Regions from separate parts of the Homo sapiens genome. Here all the other regions are reported to be linked to region 1. Evidence: microRNA targets listed by miRTarBase, many of them from high-throughput screens and not tested one by one. Region 1 holds a microRNA gene; each other region holds the end of a gene's coding sequence.
What was found. Region 1 holds the annotated microRNA hsa-miR-628-3p (UCUAGUAAGAGUGGCAGUCGA, at 1,304-1,324, opposite strand). A microRNA usually pairs through its seed, bases 2 to 8, with sites in the 3' UTR of a target mRNA and lowers its output. Matches are read on the target gene's strand: a 7mer-m8 pairs with bases 2 to 8, a 7mer-A1 pairs with bases 2 to 7 and ends in A, and an 8mer does both.

Region 2: miRTarBase lists FBXO21 as a target of hsa-miR-628-3p. Seed matches in the 3' UTR shown: 8mer at 3,099-3,106.
Region 3: the mRNA of RUNX2 is a reported target of hsa-miR-628-3p. The part of its 3' UTR that is shown has no 7-base or 8-base seed match.

What each region holds. Positions count from the first base shown.
Region 1 is chr15:55,371,651-55,376,650 of GRCh38, forward strand. MIR628 (microRNA 628) reads right to left here and starts at 1,384; the gene lies at 1,290-1,384. It overlaps CCPG1 (cell cycle progression 1), which reads right to left. Exons shown (of 9, transcript NM_001204450.2): 6 at 143-394. DNAAF4-CCPG1 (DNAAF4-CCPG1 readthrough (NMD candidate)) reads right to left here. Exons shown (of 16, transcript NR_037923.1): 13 at 143-394.
Region 2 is chr12:117,141,356-117,146,355 of GRCh38, forward strand. FBXO21 (F-box protein 21) reads right to left here. Exons shown (of 12, transcript NM_015002.3): 12 at 636-4,922. The coding sequence ends at 4,732. It overlaps TESC-AS1 (TESC antisense RNA 1), which reads left to right. Exons shown (of 3, transcript NR_120464.1): 3 at 36-134. Among named protein-coding and RNA genes, the nearest start is that of TESC-AS1, 44 kb to the left of the region's middle. RefSeq lists enhancers at 1,437-2,636, 2,037-2,116.
Region 3 is chr6:45,546,400-45,557,361 of GRCh38, forward strand. RUNX2 (RUNX family transcription factor 2) reads left to right here. Exons shown (of 9, transcript NM_001024630.4): 9 at 428-4,683. The coding sequence ends at 906. Among named protein-coding and RNA genes, the nearest start is that of RUNX2-AS1, 25 kb to the right of the region's middle.

The sequences.
Region 1 (5,000 bases):
AAAACTGAGGCTCAAACAGGCTTCAAGTTTTCAAGGCCACACATTTAATAATGGCACTGAAAACAGATCCCAAGAGTCCTCACTCTTAAGTTCCTCTACACTATCCCATCAGGTTATGTATAACACATTTTTGAGTACTTACCATAGAAATGGCCAAATCCCATGCTGATTGCAATCACCAAAGCAAGTATAACACACTTATTGAGACCACTACTGAACTGACGTTTACTCAACTCCTTAGAAGGTTCAGTTTCTTGTTCAGCAACTAGCCGGTCTTCAGATTCTGAAGCAGAAACGGTCTTCTTCCTAGCACGGCGTCGTCTAAAGGCAGGACTGGGCTGATTACTGGTTTCATCACTACTTGATTCATCGTCACTAGGCTGAGATGAAAATACTATTAAGAAAAAAGTTGACATTTAGCTATTCAAAATCTTGGAAAAGCTTTCCCAGTAAAAATTATTTAGAATAATCAATGCCATCCCTTACATGCCTTTCTACATAAGATAGCCAAAAACAAAAACCAAACAACATAAACAAAAACACGGGTTTTCAACTCATCAACATAAAGCCAAAACATAAAGCATTTCAAATGTGATACACAAGAATCTGTTAATCATACTATTTGGTGCTTTGAGAGCCTATCTCTGTTTTTTTATTTAATCCTCCTCGCCTTATAGTTTACACTCTTAGAACAATCCTTCATTCGCATAGCCTCAAGTTTCATTGCTGGCCAGGAGCAGTGGCTCACGCCTGTAATCCCAGCACTTTGGGAGGCCGAGGCGGGCAGATCACCTGAGGTCAGGAGTTCGAGATCAGCCTGGCCAACATGGCGAAACCCCTTCTCTACTAAAAATACAAAAATTAGCCGGGCATGGTAGTGCACCTATAGTCCCAGCTACTTGGGAGGCTGAGGCAGGAGAATCACTTGAACCTGGGAGGTGGAGGTTGCAGTGAGCTGAGATCCTGCCACTATACTCCAGACTGGGAGACAGAGCAAAACTCTGTCTCAAAAGAAACAAAATTTCATTGCTATTACAGGTATAAACAAGTATTATTTCTGGAAAGAAAAAAAATACTCTCTGTCTCTTCATTCAGTTTCAAAGAGGTAATTTAAGTGCAACTATTTAAGGAACACAGGAAAGTACACAAGCATTTCCTGTGACTTATAAAGTAAAATAACTACCAAAAGTTTCCTTGGGTGTATCTGGTCTCTAGTTTCATTTCCAACCTAATTAGCCCATGATCAAGGTTCAAAGCACTGTATTTTAACATAGGTTTCCAGAAGTCAGATGAGCCCTTCCCTTCGACTGCCACTCTTACTAGAAGGTTATTAATTTTACCCTCTAGTAAATATGTCAGCATGAGGAAGTGACACAACAGCTATCTCCGATATTAAGGACTATTCTGGTGCTGCTCCTTTATGAAAATAATAGTAGAGAAAAACAAACTAGTGGGGAAAATTTGCACAAGAAATCCCAAGTCCAGGAAACAAATTCCCTGGAAAAAATCACCTTCAGTTTTTTCCAAATGCATAATTTCTTAACACTGTTTCTTATGTCAACAAACTATTATGTTGACACAGAAGCTTCAATTACTCAGAAATAATTTCCACAAGCTACTTAGAGGAAAAGCACTAAAAATAAGGATAAAATATGAACTCGAATACAAAGAGCTCTAAAACAACAAACATTCATGCTCCAGAAAAGCAAAAACAGTTCTTCAGAAGACAGGATATCCATGCCACAGGAAAGCTGGTGATTTAGGTTAGGCAATATTTTTCAGAGATGGATCATGGAGTATTCAGTTCACTTTCACACTTACAACAATAAACACAAAGACAGAAGGCACTACTGAAATGAATGAATATTCCTAATATTTAGTGATACAGATGCCACTGAGAGATCTTTTTGGTCATGACCCTTATGCCCATCATGTTTATCTGGTTATTCTTGATCACTAGTTTTTCAAAGATGCCGTCGCCTCAGGTGTGAGATTATATTTCTTGGACAAAGAGAAAGAAAGGAAGACTTAAACAAAGCATTACATAATACAAAGGCATTCATGATCATGGTTAGAGTATTTAAGTCAGGCTTTCTGACATAAAATTAAGATAGGTAAATGTAAAAACAAACCATTTGTAAAACTTATTTAAATAATTGTTCAATTCTACATTAACATTACCTTCATTATATATTCTAACAAAACAGCCTAACCCACATTAATATATTCATGTCCTTATCTAATGCTTCCAACTTTTTTAACCCATACATATAATAGCTGAAATATTTTGATTTTTAACTTCTTTTAAAAAAGCTTAATTTGGCCCATAGATGCAAGCAATGCAAAGGCATGCAATAAGCTTGGCCAGCTCCTTTACAAGAGATTCTGAACACCTGTTTAGAGTATTGCGGATGACAACAGGTATCTTTAAAGCACTCGGTAAATAGTAAATGTGACTAGGCACACTCAGCTCTAGAGAAGCTGGTCAGATTTAGTCACACCACCTTGGAAAGCGAGTTGGCTAGGAACATGGTGTTTCAGCTGATCATCCCATCCCCATATGCACTCAGGAATCTTCCACAGCTTCTCCCACCACCTTTCTTTTGTGAATAAACAGGAAAAAAAGAGGCATAAAGCTATATTATAAAGACTAAAAAGAAAAAAAAGAATTAAAAATACTTAATTATCACTTAACATTGTTATCCGTACAAAATTAAAACGTAATAACCATGCCTTCTTAAAAACACACAATACAAACTTCTCTACACTACCAACTTTGCTTTTTGTCAGGGAAGAGAGTTCATAAAGAGGAAGCAGGCAGTGTTCTTAACCCAACAAAACGTACACTGCCACAAGAATATAAGTCAGGAGAAGAAAAAATTGAAGTTGAAATCCTTAAGGATGAAGAAAGGGAAAGGAAAAAACAAAATTAAGCAATGGCTAGCACAAAATTAACAAACTAAAAGGGAAAAACAAAAACCATCTTTTTTATTTTTTTGAGACGGGGTCTCCCTCTATTGCCCAGGCTGGAGTGCAGTGGCGCAATCTTGGCTCACTGCAACCTCCGCCTCCTGGGTTCAAGAGATTCTCCTGCCTCAGCCTCCAGAGTAGCTGGGATTACAGGCCTGCGCTACCACAGGCAGCTAATCCCAAGTAGCTGGGATTACAGGCACCTGGCTAAATTTTGTATTTTCAGTAGAGAAGGGTTTTTGCCGTGTTGGTCAGGCTGGTCTCAAACTCCTTACCTCAGGTAATCTGCCTGCCTCAGTCTCCCAAAGTGCAGGGATTACAGGCATGAGCCAAAGTGCCCGGCCCCAAAACAAAAACTTTTGGCAACTGGTTTATATGCAGTGTTTTCAGTATAGTCCAAAATTTCGTCTTTAAACATTTGGTTTATTGAAACAATATCTTTAGGAGGAATAACAATGGGTAAAAATACAGTTAATCAAATATTCCTCTTAGTCCACAAAAATCTCAAGAAGTCAGAATTCAGAAAGAAGATAAATATTAGAAGAATGGTCTTAGAACTATACAACTTCCTGAAAAAAGTTAATATGTAATTTCTTTCTTTTTTTGAGATGGTGCTGGGATTACAGGCGTGAGCCACCACGCCCAGCAACAGTATGTAGTTCCTTTTACGTCTATGTCAGTTTCTTATATATCTGACCATTCTATAATACTCTGGCTTCAATTTGACTTTTCTGGGCCATGAATATTCTCTAATTAAACCAGAGGCAGGAAAGGAAGCGGGGGTGGGGAAACTACCTGAATACAACACAAATCCTGGAGTTTAAAAAAATAATAATAAAATTTGATGACTAACAAGGATTCTAAAATCAATTACAATACCCCTCCATAAATAAAGATACTATGAATGCTATTCTAACAAAGCCTGAAGTTTTCCTCTGAACATCAAGAATGTCACATGAATATTCAAATAGCTGGAAAAAGTGTTTTCACGTTCATGTTTATAGGCAAACCACTGATATACTAACTGAAAATAACTTCTCATTAAATGAGATAGCCAAGAATCTCTACTTTTTTTTTTTTTTTTTGAGACAGGATCCTGCTCTGTCACCCAGGTTGGCAATCTGGGTGCAGTGGCGCAATCTCAGCTCACTACAGCCTCAACCTCCCAGGCTCAAGCAATCCTCCCACCTCAGCCTCCCAAGTGGCTGGGACCACATGCGCACGCCATCATGCCTGGCTTTTTATTATTTGTAGAGATGAGGTCTCGCTATGTTGCCCAGGCTGGTCTCGAAATCCTGGGTTCAGGTAATCCACCTGCCTCAGCTTTACAAAGTGCTGGAATTACTGGCATGAGCCACTATGCCCAGCCAAGAACCTCTACTTGACATTTTATTAGCTTAAACTGGAATGACAGAAATTCTATTGTCTGATTCTGGTTGGCAAATGTAAATATTAAAGAATGGTAAAATCTAAAAAAATTATCTAAAATAGATACTACCTGTTTCCTGTTTCTTCGTCAAATTAGGAAATTTTTAGAATCACTAGCAGTGTTTCAAGTTGTCTCTGCCATAACTCACGCTTAGTTATAATTGTGGCTTAATAACTGATATATCCAGGAACTTTATACCTACATACTTACATCACATTAAAAGATGTTATACATACTGCTAAAACTGAGCTGAAGCATAGCAGAAAGAAATCAAGCAACTCACACTTTAATCTCTGAATGAGTCTGTCTGTACAACGGGCATTGATTGCATTAAAAATGTGGCTTACACTAGTGACATTTTCATAACAGAATCTAAAACAAAAGATCTGAAGGTCACGAGCTTTGGAAGACTAGCTGTATTGATAGCACCTTGAACTCTGTTTCACATATGGTAGGTACTCAATAAATGTTTGTTGCATGATTAATAATTGAATATATCTGAAGAGACTTTAATAACAATTTTTTTCACTATTTCTATATTACAAAATGTACACTACTGCAAGCAAAAATATTAACATCCCCAATCTCCCACTCTTAAAGA
Region 2 (5,000 bases), not on the chromosome of region 1:
CCACCAAACCTTTTCTCTTCCTTTCGGGCCCACAGGAAACCATTTGGCACCTCCTCTGGAACGAAGGTGTGGCCGGCCACTTGAGATCTGGCTGTTGAGGCAGAGGTAGTGCATGTGACCCACGCGGTGAGAGGTCTGCTCCCCGCTGCTGCAGCCATCTGCGGTGGAGACCGTGAGTGTACACAGACAGTGCCATCTGAAGGGAACTCCACTGCCTCTATGTGCTACTTAGGCAGGGGCGACTGAGCCGGAGACTGCAGAAATGTGTCCGTCCCCACGGACAGCCTGGCTTAGCTGTCCGTGGCTGTCTCCTGCGGTGGAGGAGCACACTGGAGTGGCCCGTGCAGTGGACCAGAGCTTCCACCCACACTGTGTTCTGTCTCCTTTCCTAGAACACAACTGGACGTTTCCCACCTCCGTGCAAAATGAGTGGACATAAGGGGTGCCACTTCCACACCTGGCTCATGGAAGCTCCCAGATGGTCTCAGCCCTCCATGCTCCCCGCTACTTCAGGCGGGATGGAGATGGACGGCTCAGGTTGCTCTGATGCCTGCCTGCATAAGGGCTGCCCTGCCAGCCCATTCCCCTGCCCAATATTATGGAAGCAAAAACGTTCTATGGTGTTTGAGCCATTGTTGCTTTTCGGGTCTATTTATTACAGAACTAGCAGAGCCCTAATACAGTCATTGCTACGTGGCCATAATACATGTATTCTATAATTGCGCCTAATTTTATTCACCGGAGGGACGTCCTTTACTTTCAAGATTCTAAATTTTTCAGAAATGCAACATTCAAGGTTAAAGTCGCTGCTAGACCAAGGCTAAACCGTGGCGAGGTAGTTGCTTGCGCCGCAGAGTGTGGGTGTGAACAGCTGGAGCTCAGTGGTTCCTGGAGACTCAGGGACCACCTGTATTCCACATCCGGCTTCCCACCCACGCACACGCAGTATGACCTGGGTTTCCCCTTTATACAGTGGAATGCTAAGTGCCTACACCCTAGCCGGGGTCAGCCAACTATGGCCTGTGGGCACCATCCCACCTGCAGCCTGTTTTTGAGCTAAGAATGTTGTTGACACTTTTAAAAACAGAGAACATGTGACAGTCTGTACGTGGCCTGCAAAGCCTAAAATCTTTACTATCTGCGTCTGCTTTATAGGATTGCTGGGAGGATTACAAAGACTTTATTAGGCCAGTGCCCGGCTCAAAGTTAGCATGCCACACAAAATAATACGTACAGTACAGCTATTCACGTCTCCAAAAAGCAATTGTCCCACATCCAAATTTTGCATTTTGTCCAGTTGATGTCTCTCCTTCCCTCCAAAAAAAAAAAAAAAAAAAAAAGACAAAATAAAAACACGAAGAGCTGCATCTTGATCATCATGGACAGATACTTTTCAGTTAAAAAGTTGCTGGTAGTCTGAGTTCACTTACTTGGAGTATGGACTAAGGAGGGGAAAGCAAAGAGATGCGACATCAGCAGCAGAAAGCCTGCGACACGGCAGCTCTGCTCAGTTTTCTCCGTGGGGAAAGATCGGAACACTTACAAATGAGAACGGGACTTTAAGTAGATAGTATGCAATGGAAAACTGAGCCGGCAACAGTACTTAATGCTGGTTTTCTCAATAAAATCATTTTGCTGTGTAAACGCGCTTATAATGGGGATCTGTTATGAGTCTCAGGCAGGCGACATGAAAGCCGGCCTTTCAAAATCTGATTAGGTGGATAATGTTTGCAAACATGACGCCTGGCAAAACCGGTCTGATTCTAAGGTAAACTCATTTTGGACATAACTGATGTCTCACTGAGACAGCTTTTCAAAGCATGTCTGCAAACACCGGACCCCCGGGGACGGTGCGTGCGTGTAGGGGAGGGAAATTCCAGGGTTTCATATATCAAGATGACACACCCGCTGCACACTTCTCTTAGAAAGTCACGACGCACAGTACTGTGCGTCACAGGTATTGAGAAACACCACCATAGAGTCAATTGACTTTGTTTAACCTATAACCTTTTTTCCTCCCACATAGTAGGTAGTAACATCACACGGAAACAGTGCTCTGAAGACATTCTGGACACATCGTATACAGCACAGCCATTCAAATCAACGGCAACAGAACGCACGAAGAACCTGGTTTTCTTTCAAAGCATGAGCAGTTCTCATTTTACAACATGTGTTTTAACATAATTCAGAAAGTGCAATCTTTGCATGACAACCAGATAATTCTCAAAGGTTACTAGTGAGCTGATAAAATTAACGTTTGGCAAGGAGGTCATGGTTTACAGGTAGGCTGTCCGCTCACCAATGCTCAGAAAAATTCAGCAGAACATACTTTTCATATTTAGATCCGAAGAGAGGTGAGAGACATTCTACTCAAGTCATGGCTGGGCTTTCTGTCCTCAAACGAAATTGGGCAGGCCATTTGCGTGGTTTCTCTGGATAAGTTCCATTTATTAATCATTGTACAAAAAAATCTTGGCATTCATTTGAAGAGAAAAGAAGTTGCTATATCCAAATATTTAACATTTTAACATTGTGAAAGTTCAACGTTTATAACAGGGCTTTTTAAAATGGAGAAAAGTTTTGGAAAATTTTTAAAAAGAAACTTATGATTTATTAGAGTACAGGATCCAAAACACGTTTTTAGAAAAATATAAAGTGCCCAAATACCAACTTACACAGGTGATACAGGCTTCCTGGAGCCCCATGAAGCATTCATGAAGAAAGACATTTAAAAACAGTCTAGATACATATGTACAGCTGGGTCAGTAAAGGTAAAACCATCTTTCTTGACTTTGATGTGTCTAAGAAAAAAGGAAATCAATCAAACCAGAAAACCAACAATTGCAACTCTCAGCATGCTCAGGTTCTTATTAATGCATCTCATTCATATTAATTAATTCCGTATTATCAAACTTTCCCCTTTAAATGAAAGTAGTGTACAATCCTCCCAACCTTGGCGGGCCAGGTGCTGTGAGTGGTTACGTTTCCAGATGCAGGTTCAAATCCTTTGACTTTGGATTTGACTGATGAGGAACATGGACAGTGGATTAAATAGCTCATTCAGGCTGGAGGAGCCAGGGGCCAAATCCCCATCTCTTTCTAGTAACTGCTTAAAGCCTTCCCTTGCTATGAAGTGGTCTCAGGTGGCTTTCCAAACCTTGGTCACCCCAGGGTTTCCAAAGGGTAAACAAGCAGCAGGCATTCAACATGGGTGAGAATACTGCATGCAGATGGACAGACAGGTGCAGAGACAGGCCCCTAACGCCCCATTCACTAGAGCAACTGCATTATTTTAAATGTTGAGAGCAAAGTAACTAGGTCCTAACTTCGGAAGTTAGCTTCTATCGATTAATGACAAGATTAGCTCGCTTGAGAACTGGCAGGCCGAGAGTTGGTGGAGCTCCAGAGCTGCACAAAGGCGTGCAGTTACTCTGGGCTCAGTTACTGAGAACTTCGGAAAGGAGCCAGTGCCGTCCGAACACACGGTCAGGCTTTCCCAGAAGACGCCACAACAGGCTTCGTCCTGCTGCCGTCAGGACCCTGGCGGCTTGGAAAAGCAGATTCCAACACGCACATCTCCTTTCACACAAGTCCAACACTCTTCAAATGAAAGACATTCTCTCTCTTTCTAACCTGCCACATTCAAACAGGCCTTGAAGTGACTCTAAGGAATAACAAGAGGTGTGAAACCACTTTTTTTCCCTTCAAAACCTTTTTTTTTTTTTTTAAGGTTCATTAATTTTTTTTTTTCCTGATTACAAAAGCAAAACCTCATTTTTTGGTCTTTGAAGACCATGGAGTATGACTTCTAAGAGCAAACATTAACATCAGATTTGTATGTCTCACTACAAAAAGAACCCATCACTGATGTAAGACCTACTCATGATACTGAAGTAGATTTTTTAAATTAAAAAATAAAAGTAGTCATTTAAAATGGAGGAATTGTAGATGAGTATGGAAAAATCCATTCACAAAGTTCACTATTTGCATTTTCTAAAAGAATTTTATGTAATAAAATAGAAAACTAATGATTTATAGAGATGTGCATAAACTCAAGAGAGGAATATGGAAGGGAAAACTGTGTTATATTCCCATTTAAATTTAAAAAAAAAAGATAAAACACTTGAAATCTGTGTTTCACATATTAGAAAAAAATAAATTCAAATGATTCTAATTACCATTAGCTTGTTAATGTCTCCATCTCTAAGATGCTGCCAAGATAGCACACAACTTTACCTCTGAATATGCAACTAACTTCAGGGTAAAAAGACACACAGTCCTCACTCGGGACCGAACACGTTCCACAGAGAAATCAGAAGGAAATTATTGCAAATGCATAACCCCATCTGTCCAGCCAAGGAAATGTTCTGAGACAAATGCAGACAGACAGGGGAATGGAGTGAATACAAAGAATGATTACAGGAGCGTCGACTGTGAGACCTCATGAAGACAGAATGTCACAAACTGTCACCACAGGACAAGCATACAAGCCATGCCACTGACACAGTGCCTTTCAGATTAATTCACTAGTGTAGGCGGAGAGCAACATTGTCTTTGCAGCTGGGGAAGAGCACACGGTATTTAAACTTAGTAGGAGGCAACCAGCACTACTGGTGGAGTGGCTTTCCTGGTGCAGCAGGTCCCGAGGGCTCCGTGGAGACGTCTTCTTCCGGAGTCCCGTTCTCTTGGAAGATAGCAGCAGCAGCAAAGGTGCAATGTCCTCTCTAGACTTTACTCATCTATGTTCTCTTTCTTTGCACTGTAAATATTCTGCACCGTTTCATAGACAAACTCCAGATCTTCTGGATACCGGATCTCCAGCTCTGCGTTTGGGATGTAGTGAGTGCCAGTAAACTCTGAGAAATAGCGTCCCACGTCAGGGTGTGAGATTTCTTGAGGCTCCACGTTATATTCCAAGTTTTCTGTTGGTAAAGAGGCACACGGGCATTCTCATTACAATGTCCATTGCTGCCACACCTTTCATCCAGAGAACCTCCCAT
Region 3 (10,962 bases), not on the chromosome of region 1:
TTTCTTTATATTGAGTTGAGGAAAATAAACTTGTCTGACTTAGTAAAAATTTCACTTCAAATATCTAAAGTGCAACGAGAAGCAAAAAGAGAAAAAAAATCCATGAGGATTTGGTTTTAAAGTCTGGTGAGTGAACCTATGTGATCAGAGTGTTGGGTTGGTTTACACATTGACCTGGCACACATGTGGGTTTTTAAAGCCCTCTGGGATTCTCTGGGGGTGAAGAACTTAAGGATCAATGCTGTTAAGACTGCAAAGTGGGGGAAAAAGACTGTAAAGTGACTGGTGCATTTGAAGGTCTGTCTGTGGCTTGCTGTTCCTTTATGGGAAAGCTAAAGTTTTCTCTTTTTTTTTCTTGTAACAATTCTATCATTATTTTAATTGATATTTACAGATTTTTCCCTCCATCTTCTGTTATAATTTTTAGGTGCTTCAGAACTGGGCCCTTTTTCAGACCCCAGGCAGTTCCCAAGCATTTCATCCCTCACTGAGAGCCGCTTCTCCAACCCACGAATGCACTATCCAGCCACCTTTACTTACACCCCGCCAGTCACCTCAGGCATGTCCCTCGGTATGTCCGCCACCACTCACTACCACACCTACCTGCCACCACCCTACCCCGGCTCTTCCCAAAGCCAGAGTGGACCCTTCCAGACCAGCAGCACTCCATATCTCTACTATGGCACTTCGTCAGGATCCTATCAGTTTCCCATGGTGCCGGGGGGAGACCGGTCTCCTTCCAGAATGCTTCCGCCATGCACCACCACCTCGAATGGCAGCACGCTATTAAATCCAAATTTGCCTAACCAGAATGATGGTGTTGACGCTGATGGAAGCCACAGCAGTTCCCCAACTGTTTTGAATTCTAGTGGCAGAATGGATGAATCTGTTTGGCGACCATATTGAAATTCCTCAGCAGTGGCCCAGTGGTATCTGGGGGCCACATCCCACACGTATCAATATATACATATATAGAGAGAGTGCATATATATGTATATCGATTAGCTATCTACAAAGTGCCTATTTTTTAGAAGATTTTTCATTCACTCACTCAGTCATGATCTTGCAGCCATAAGAGGGTAGATATTGAGAAGCAGAAGGCTCAAGAGAGACAATTGCAATCGAGCTTCAGATTGTTTACTATTTAAGATGTACTTTTACAAAGGAACAAAGAAGGGAAAAGGTATTTTTGTTTTTGTTGTTTGGTCTGTTATCATCAATAACCTGTTCATATGCCAATTCAGAGAGGTGGACTCCAGGTTCAGGAGGGAGAAGAGCAAAGCCGCTTCCTCTCTGTGCTTTGAAACTTCACACCCTCACGGTGGCAGCTGTGTATGGACCAGTGCCCTCCGCAGACAGCTCACAAAACCAGTTGAGGTGCACTAAAGGGACATGAGGTAGAATGGATGCTTCCATCACAGTACCATCATTCAGAATAACTCTTCCAATTTCTGCTTTCAGACATGCTGCAGGTCCTCATCTGAACTGTTGGGTTCGTTTTTTTTTTTTTTTTTCCTGCTCCAAGAAAGTGACTTCAAAAATAACTGATCAGGATAGATTATTTTATTTTACTTTTTAACACTCCTTCTCCCCTTTTCCCACTGAACCAAAAAGAAATCCCATCCCTAAAACCTGCCTTCTCCTTTTATGCAAAACTGAAAATGGCAATACATTATTATAGCCATAATGGTATAGATAGTGATTGCGTTTGGCTATGTGTTGTTTTCTTTTTTTTTAAATTATGAATATGTGTAAAATCTGAGGTAACTTGCTAACGTGAATGGTCATATAACTTTAAAGATATATTTATAATTATTTAATGACATTTGGACCCTTGAAACATTTCTTAGTGTATTGATATGTTGACTTCGGTCTCTAAAAGTGCTCTTTATTAAATAACAAATTTCTTCAGTGGTCTAGAGCCATATCTGAAATATTGCTAAGCAATTTCAGTTCATCCAGGCACAATGTGATTTTAAAAAATACTTCCATCTCCAAATATTTTAGATATAGATTGTTTTTGTGATGTATGAAGGAAATGTTATGTTTAGTTCTTTCAGATCTTTGAATGCCTCTAACACAGCTTTGCCTTCTAAAGCGGTAATTAGGGATTTAAAAAACAACCTTTAGCCCTTTATCAGCATGAAATGCTGGAGTGATGTGGTTTTCTAATTTCTTTGGGGTAATTATGACTCTTGTCATATTAAAAAGACAAGCACAAGTAAATCATTGAACTACAGAAAAATGTTCTGTGGTTTCATAGTTAAGCAAAACTCTAAATCGCCAGGCTTCATAGCAAAGACATAGTCAGCTAAAAGCCGCACATGTGGATAGAGGGTTCAATTATGAGACACCTAGTACAGGAGAGCAAAATTGCACCAGAGATTCTTAACCAACCAGCCTTACCAAACAACACAACAGGGGAACCCCAATCTGCCTTACCCAAGGCCCCACTGGCAGCTTTCCACAGAATTTGCATTTAGAGGAGCAGAATGACATCACTGTCCTTTGGGAGTAGGTCCTCTGAAAAGGCAGCAGGTTCCAGCAGGTAGCTGAGCTGAGAGGACATATGGCCCACGGGGACCTACAGACAGCCTTTGACATTTGTATTTCTTACAATGGAGGGCCAAGGAGGGCAAGGGGCTGTGGAGTTTGGTGTCTACTAGTGTGTATGAATTTGAGCTAGAGTCCTTCTGTGGCATGCACTTTGACCACTCCTGGCAGTCACATGGCAGATTTCCAAGTGCAAATCCTTAATCCAAACAAGGATCATCTAATGACACCACCAGGCCAATCCCTGCTCTCCTCCCCGAAAAGTCAGGGTCCCTTCATTGGAATCCTCCACCCACCCAAGCAGAATTTAGCAGAGATTTGCCTTCAAACCCTAACGGCCCCCTTGTTCTCTGGTCCTTCTCAAACCCACCTTTGTAGGCCACCCAGCATTGCAGGACAGCGTGTGGGGCAGCTGGACCTGTGCTTCCTGCCTGGGAGTCTCCCTTGGAATTCATCCTGACTCCTTCTAATAAAAATGGATGGGAAAGCAAAACACTTTGCCTTCTAAAGGCCGTATACCAAGTATGCTTAGATAAATAAGCCACTTTTCTATTACTTAAGTAAGAAGGAAGTAGTAATTGATACTATTTATTGTTTGTGTGTGGTAGCTTGAAGCACACCACTGTCCATTTATTTGTAAGTGTAAAATATGTGTGTTTGTTTCAGCAGCACTTAAAAAAGCCAGTGTCTGGTTACACATTTCAATTTTAATTAATTGACATAAAAATGCTACCGCCAGTGCCAGCTGCATCCTATTTAATTAAAAAGGTACTATATTTGTACATTATTTTTTAATGTTAAAAGGGCTTTTTTAAGTTTACAGTACACATACCGAGTGACTTTAGGGATGCTTTTGTGTTGAAATGTTACTATAGTGGCTGCAGGCAGCAACCCAGAAACACTTTAGAAGCTTTTTTTCCTTGGGAAAAATTCAAGCACTTCTTCCCTCCACCCTCACTCCAACCACCCCAATGGGGGTAATTCACATTTCTTAGAACAAATTCTGCCCTTTTTTGGTCTAGGGATTAAAATTTTGTTTTTCTTTCTTTCTTTTTTTTTTTTTTTCACTGAACCCTTAATTTGCACTGGGTCATGTGTTTGATTTGTGATTTCAAGACCAAAGCAAAGTCTTACTACTACTGTGGAACCATGTACTAGTTCCTGGGAATTAAAATAGCGTGGTTCTCTTTGTAGCACAAACATTGCTGGAATTTGCAGTCTTTTCAATGCAGCCACATTTTTATCCATTTCAGTTGTCTCACAAATTTTAACCCATATCAGAGTTCCAGAACAGGTACCACAGCTTTGGTTTTAGATTAGTGGAATAACATTCAGCCCAGAACTGAGAAACTCAACAGATTAACTATCGTTTGCTCTTTAGACGGTCTCACTGCCTCTCACTTGCCAGAGCCCTTTCAAAATGAGCAGAGAAGTCCACACCATTAGGGACCATCTGTGATAAATTCAGAAGGGAGGAGATGTGTGTACAGCTTTAAGGATTCCCTCAATTCCGAGGAAAGGGACTGGCCCAGAATCCAGGTTAATACATGGAAACACGAAGCATTAGCAAAAGTAATAATTATACCTATGGTATTTGAAAGAACAATAATAAAAGACACTTCTTCCAAACCTTGAATTTGTTGTTTTTAGAAAACGAATGCATTTAAAAATATTTTCTATGTGAGAATTTTTTAGATGTGTGTTTACTTCATGTTTACAAATAACTGTTTGCTTTTTAATGCAGTACTTTGAAATATATCAGCCAAAACCATAACTTACAATAATTTCTTAGGTATTCTGAATAAAATTCCATTTCTTTTGGATATGCTTTACCATTCTTAGGTTTCTGTGGAACAAAAATATTTGTAGCATTTTGTGTAAATACAAGCTTTCATTTTTATTTTTTCCAATTGCTATTGCCCAAGAATTGCTTTCCATGCACATATTGTAAAAATTCCGCTTTGTGCCACAGGTCATGATTGTGGATGAGTTTACTCTTAACTTCAAAGGGACTATTTGTATTGTATGTTGCAACTGTAAATTGAATTATTTGGCATTTTTCTCATGATTGTAATATTAATTTGAAGTTTGAATTTAATTTTCAATAAAATGGCTTTTTTGGTTTTGTTATGTGTGTACCTTGGGTCTTTTCTTGTTCACGGTTTCTCCCTAGTCTGATGTCTACTCCTGCTTACACCTGGGCACTGTTTGGTCTTAGGACTTGCCAGGGCTAGTTAAGAGAAGAGATGCTATATTACTGGGGAGAAGAAAAAAAATCTTGGTAAACGGTGTCTTCTTGTTTTGTCCTGTTCCTAGCGAGGGGTGGGCAAAGAATCTAGCAGTGAACTCACTTCCTTACTAGCTTGTGTCTGAAGGAAGGAGTGCTCACCTCATCCTTGAGTAAGGCCATTTATTCCAACTGGGGGACCTATCAGGCGTATAGATGCAGTCTCGATGGCTTCATGATTCTAATCTCTGAGAACATGAACAGGGCCCCGCAAGTGAACCTCTGGCTATCAACAGAAGATCTCAGGCAGCCCAGATATAGGCTAGTCTGTTTTCCTTTCCACATCTCTTTTGGGTTCTTAAAAATAAAGTCAACCAAAGCCCAAGGATGAGTAAAAACGGACCTTGGCCTGGAGGGCTATAGCCTCAGAAGAATTCTCCTAGTGAACATAACTATAGTTTGGAGATTTTTTTTTCCCGTGGCCATTGTTTATTTTTGGTAAGTCCCCCCCCTTGTGATAAGGTTGAAGACCTGGGGTAGAAAGGTTGCTTTCTCTGTGTCCTATGCTTTCTGAATGCTTGGGCTCACCACAATTCTAAAATAGGGACCCAGGAAAACATGGTGCAGAGAAGGTCAGCCAGTGGCCAAGCTGACCCACATCACAGGGAGAGTTAGAGACCTTGAAGATCTGCTCATTCTTAACCCTTTGGCACTATTTTCTAAGAAATCTTGGAAATAGTTAAATTCCAAGAATAGGAAATGTCCTGAAAGCACTTGGGTGAGCTTAAGCCAGGGAACTTGTCTGCAACTCTGAGGATGTAGATTTATTTATTTAAAAAAAAATCAAACATCTGTGTGACTTTAAAGGGCATTCACAAGGGAGGTGGTCACAGTGGCTTGCTTTCTGTCTCCAGTTTTCTCTATCAGGATGGTCTAGGGCAAATCCCTTTATTCCTCTGTGTCTCAGTTTCTTGGTTTATGAAAAGGCATTGGGCTAGATCTTGGCACTATTGACATTTCAGACTGGGTAATTCTTTTTGTGTGTGTGTGTCAGGGATGCTCTCCTGTGTATTGTAGGATGTTTAGCAGCATTCCTAGCCTCTACCCACTAAAAGTTAGTAGCACCTCCCTAGTTAGGACAATCAAAAATGTCTCCAGATGTTGCCAAATGGTCCCTGGGTGGCAAGATCACCACCGATTGAGAACCACTTAGCTAGAGGCTTTATTGACAGAACTGATATGAGAATACATTGCTTATTAAATCAGAGTAGCCAGGCAGAGGCTGAGGGACTTCCCAGTGATGGCTACACCTCAACCTTTTCCATCCCTTCACTTGATTTGGATGTATCATGAGGGCTGCTGTTGGCTTTTTCGTCTGCACCTCTTCACTCCTCTCTGCAACATGGGCTGTGCAGCCAGTGAACAGCCCAGCTGTGGGGCTTTGTTAAGCCTGGATTGGTTGGCCATATTTATCATGGCCTGTTTCTCACTGAAACGGCAGGCGGAAGAAGAAAGCAATTTCTGCAGTGTTTTTGACCCCTGGTGTCCCCTATCCCCCAAATATTTAATCATCAGGCATTTCTGCAAGAGTGGGTGTTTCCTGTTAACTCAATCCCAGCCGGGACTGGCCCAATAAACACCTCAGGTCTCTGTCATAGAGTTTATTTGGCTGGGAAATGGGTATTGCCATGTAAACAGGAAGGCCCCTGAAGTTATTATCTACAGACGCAGTGGAAGAGCCGCATGTTTATATTTATGGGACTTGAAAACAGTATGAAAGGCAAGGGAGGATGTCAGGGAAGCCCTCATTGGCAGTCAGTGAGAGCAGGTCCTACAGCTCTTTATTAGTTAATTTTTCATTCTCTCTGGAAATGGTTGGTAAACAATAATGACCTAGCCAAGAGCCACTGCAGAAATGGAGGTACTGGCTTGCCTGTACCTAGATTACCAGGTTAACAATAAGAAATGCTATCAGTTGGCCTCTCTGTCCTAACTATTCGAAAATTATTTTAGAGATCAGTCCTAGGAAGCAACAATTTGGAGGTATCTAAAAAGGATGCTTATGAAACAGTGTCACCATCTCTAAGTTCTTCTGGGGAAGTGGAGGACAACTCAACTGACTGCTCCAGTTGTAGTGAGTGTGGGCCAGCTCACCTGTGAAAATCCCAAGCAAATTCTCATGCATTCACTCCTTAGTCAGTTTCTGTGAGGCTGGAAAGGACATCTTCATGCAAGAGTTCATAACACCTGAGCTGTCCAGGTATTGGTACTGGGAATCAGGCTTACACCCTAGGCCTATGCACCCCAGGTATACTCCAAATTGCTCCCAACCCTTCTCGGCTCTTCCATTGTCTCTCTCCTCTGGCCCGGAAAAGGTGCTAAGAAAGGCCAGGTAGGAACCAGTATGTGGAGAGCTGATACTCTTGATTTAAACTCTGGGTTCTGAGCAAAGGCAAGGGAGTCTTTCCTTCCTCACCACCATTGCTGTGGACCCTGAGAAGCCTCTTTGTGTCTTCTTAGGGGCTTCTCAGCGGTAACTACTCAATCAGGAGGCCTTGGAAAGGAAATTTTAAAAAGTTATGAATCAAAACTTACCAAGGAAAAGGATCCAGTGAAGACGCAAAGGGTAATACACCAGGGATGTGTGTGTGTGGGCGTGTGTGTGGTGTATGTGTGTGTGTGTGTGGGGTGTATGTATGTGTGTGTATATGTGTCTGTGGTGCATGTGTGTATGTGTATTTATGTGTGTGGTGCATGTGTGTATGTGTGTGGTGTGTATGTGCACGTATATGTATATGTGTGTGTATATGTGTATACGGGTGTGTGGTGTGTGTCTATGTGTGTATGTGTGCATGTGTGGTGTGTGTATGTGTGTATATGTGTGTGGTGTGTGTGTGGTGTGTATGTGTGTGGTGTGTGTGTGCATGTGTATGTGTGTGTGTGGTGTGTGTATGTGTGTGTGGTGTGTATGTGTGGTGTGTGTGTGCATGTGTATGTGTGTGTATATGTGTGTGGTGTGTGTGCATGTGTATGTATGTGCATGTGTGTGTATATGTGTGGTGCATGTGTATGTGTCTGTGTGTGGTGTGGTGTATGTGTGTATGTGTGTATATGTGTATGCACACACAGGTATGTGTGTGCCTGAAGGGAGGGAAGGAGGAGGGTGAAGTTTGGAAAGGGTACCTGAACAGCCACCCACTCAGAGAAAGATGGGGCTCACCACCCCTGCACATGTACTCAGGAGACACAGTGTTTCTTGGCCTCAGTTTTTTATTTCTGCAAATTCTTCAAAAAAAAAAAAAAGTACTGCCTTTATCCCACAAGTGATAAAGAAACAATTACTTGTCTTCAAATAGGTTACTGGGACAAGGGACACTGGATGCTCCTTGATATGTCAATTAAGGGAGCAGGGAGAAGCTAACATTTAAGGAGTTTTTAGTAATTTTTGTAAAGCTATTATTCAAAAGTTTGTGACTCAATCCAGCCCTGCTATTCAGATATGCTCAGCCATTTGGGAAGCAGAGGGATCAAATTTCTGGAAACACATTTAACATTTACCAAAATGTCTTTTAATTCGTTTCTTATTATCTTGTTGCATTGATGTCAGGCCACTTAGTGGGGTTTTCTGCAAAACTTGCTTCCTGTTTTAGCACTGCAAACATAGCTCACTTCTTGATTGCTATCTATTCTTTCCAGGTCATTCTGTCCCACTCTGTAGCCAATAAAAAGGGAAGAATTTCCCCCACCTGCTATTCTTATAAAGAAATCAAGGACATAGAGCAAAATACTTTTAACAAAAAGGCAAAATTCTTCCACATAAGCCCTTCAGGGAGTAGCTCTTGGAGCAGTAACATTAAATGGGACCAGAACACAAAAGCGCACAGGCTCATGTGGCCTTAGGAAATTTCTCTGGGAGGACCAAAAGTACTAGAGTTAACCCGAATGTGGAAAATGGAAATAGGATAGAGTGAGCTTCGTGGAATTAGAGATACAGTATATAATGGCAGAAACTAAGGGTGTTTTTGAGAGATGGGAATGCCAAGAACACCCGAAACACAATTGGATGATGGATTGATAGAAAAGTACAAATTTATTTAAAAGCAGCAAAAAGCAGATAACAAAATCACATGACATGTAGAATTGTGGCACGATTAATAAAACAGTGTTAGGATTTAAATCACCTTCGACATCCTCTCTTTCCTAAACCAAGTCACCTATGTATCCTAACTCCATCTATCTCCAGCAGTGAAATAGTTGGACCAATTTCATTTTCTGTTTCTCTGTGAGTTTCCCTTCATTCTTCTGCCCCCAAATGAGAGGAGCGTTTTGTGGGATCATTATTTATCCCAGAAATGCTTCAGCCTGATTTTGTTCTCCCTAACCATCATTTAGTATTTAAAATCCTAGAAATCACAATGACTTTACTCTTTTTTAGTAGAGTGCTTAAAGAGTCTTTGTGTGTGTAGATTTGGGGGCGTAGAACATTTGGCTCCTTACAGAAATCTTATTTATGGCTTCACAGATGAGAAATACAGAGATTATTATTGAATACGATTCTCAACCACACCTTCTGGAGCACAAACTGTGAGCTCAGGTTGTGCAGGGAAAGATTGGTGAACCAACCGTCATTCCTCGTGGGCATGAGAGGGAGAGAAGGATCCAAGGAGAAAGCAAGTTTGAACTTCAGCAAGGAGTTAAGTGGTTAATAGGAACTCAGTTTTTTTTTTTATTGGCTAATAAAACCTCTCAGCGTTTTTCATATTATATGGTCCCTTCAGGCTCCTAGCCCAATGGCTTAAAAAAAGGGAAAGACAAAAACAACAACAAAAAGCTGGAGCCTAAATACCAATGCAGTCCCAGTCTTGTTTACTTTTTCATTTCCGCAGTTGTAAAAAAAAAAAAAAAAATTCCTCTGGTAGTTCAACTTTATCATAGGAATTGCAGGAACGGACCGGTGTTTGAACAACTCCAGTCATTCCTGCCTCCCAGTGAAAGGAAAAAATATGCTCTGCCTGTGTGTGCCTGTTTCAGAAAAAAAGTTGACCACGCTGCAAGTGATGGATGCATCAGGAAATCTTAAAATGAAAGCAGGGGTGGAAGGAGGGAGCGCAGATATTGAACTGAAACACATCTCTGGAATCCTGAATGCAAATGATCTCTGTCCTTTTATTGCCAGTGGTGCTGTTCTCCCAACAGAGCAGGATGTTCTTGTTTTTAATAATAGCCAGGCCAGATGCTAAATTCGCCTCAGCAACATGCTGTATAAGTGAGAAGGCAAACAGCTGATTCCTGTTAAGACGAACACCAGGAGAATAAGCCAGAAAGTATGAGAATTCTCTGGAGGTTTTTGCTTTGTAAACCCCTGTTTGGCAGAAAGATCACAGAATCTGAACTGAAAACACAGTGTGTCCCCTGCACCCGTTCCTCGGCGGAGCTGCTTGCTGGGGGCCTTTAAGCCTCTCGCCTTCGCCATCCAGCCCTTTTCTAAGCTGTCCAGAAGACGAGCTTACAGGTTTCCCAAGAGGGAAAGTCGGAAGCCCTGAGTCCTTTGACTTTTAATGACTGTAGAAAAATACTCATCAATAGGAGGATTTTTTTTTTTACTTGTTCCTTGCAGTAAAAAATAGCGAAATCCTGAACACGAGCCAGTATTTTTAAATGGCATCTTTGTTCCATCTTTTTCACTACCTTCTTCCCCCTGTCAGAGTCCATCAAATCCCTCAGATACTATTCCTTTCAGAATAAGCCACACATGCAAGATGCTGCTTTCTTCTTTCCCAGGGAGCTGCCAGAGCCTGTGTGGTGTTCTGTGCGGCTGGGCTGACCAGATCAGACAGTGACCAGGCTGCACGCCGCTGCTAGCTCATGCCACCTCCAAATGCTGCCCTGAAGGCCCTTCCTGGAGAGCAGGGGTACCCTGTGGAAGGGGTCTGCAGAGTGTTGTCTTCCAGTCATTCCTGGGGGCTTTGCTTCCAAGGCCTGCAGGAAAGTGAGCGAGAGAAGAAGGGGATGTTAGGAGGAGGTTGAGAAGCTCGCCCCAAAAATAAGTTCCCCAAAGACCCCTTTCATTACCTTTCCTGTTCATATCATCCTCCTAAACCCTCATACTTTCTCTCTCCAATTGCCACATCCTCCCCTGAAATGCAGAAAGTGCACATTATCCTTTCTATTTTTTCCTCCCT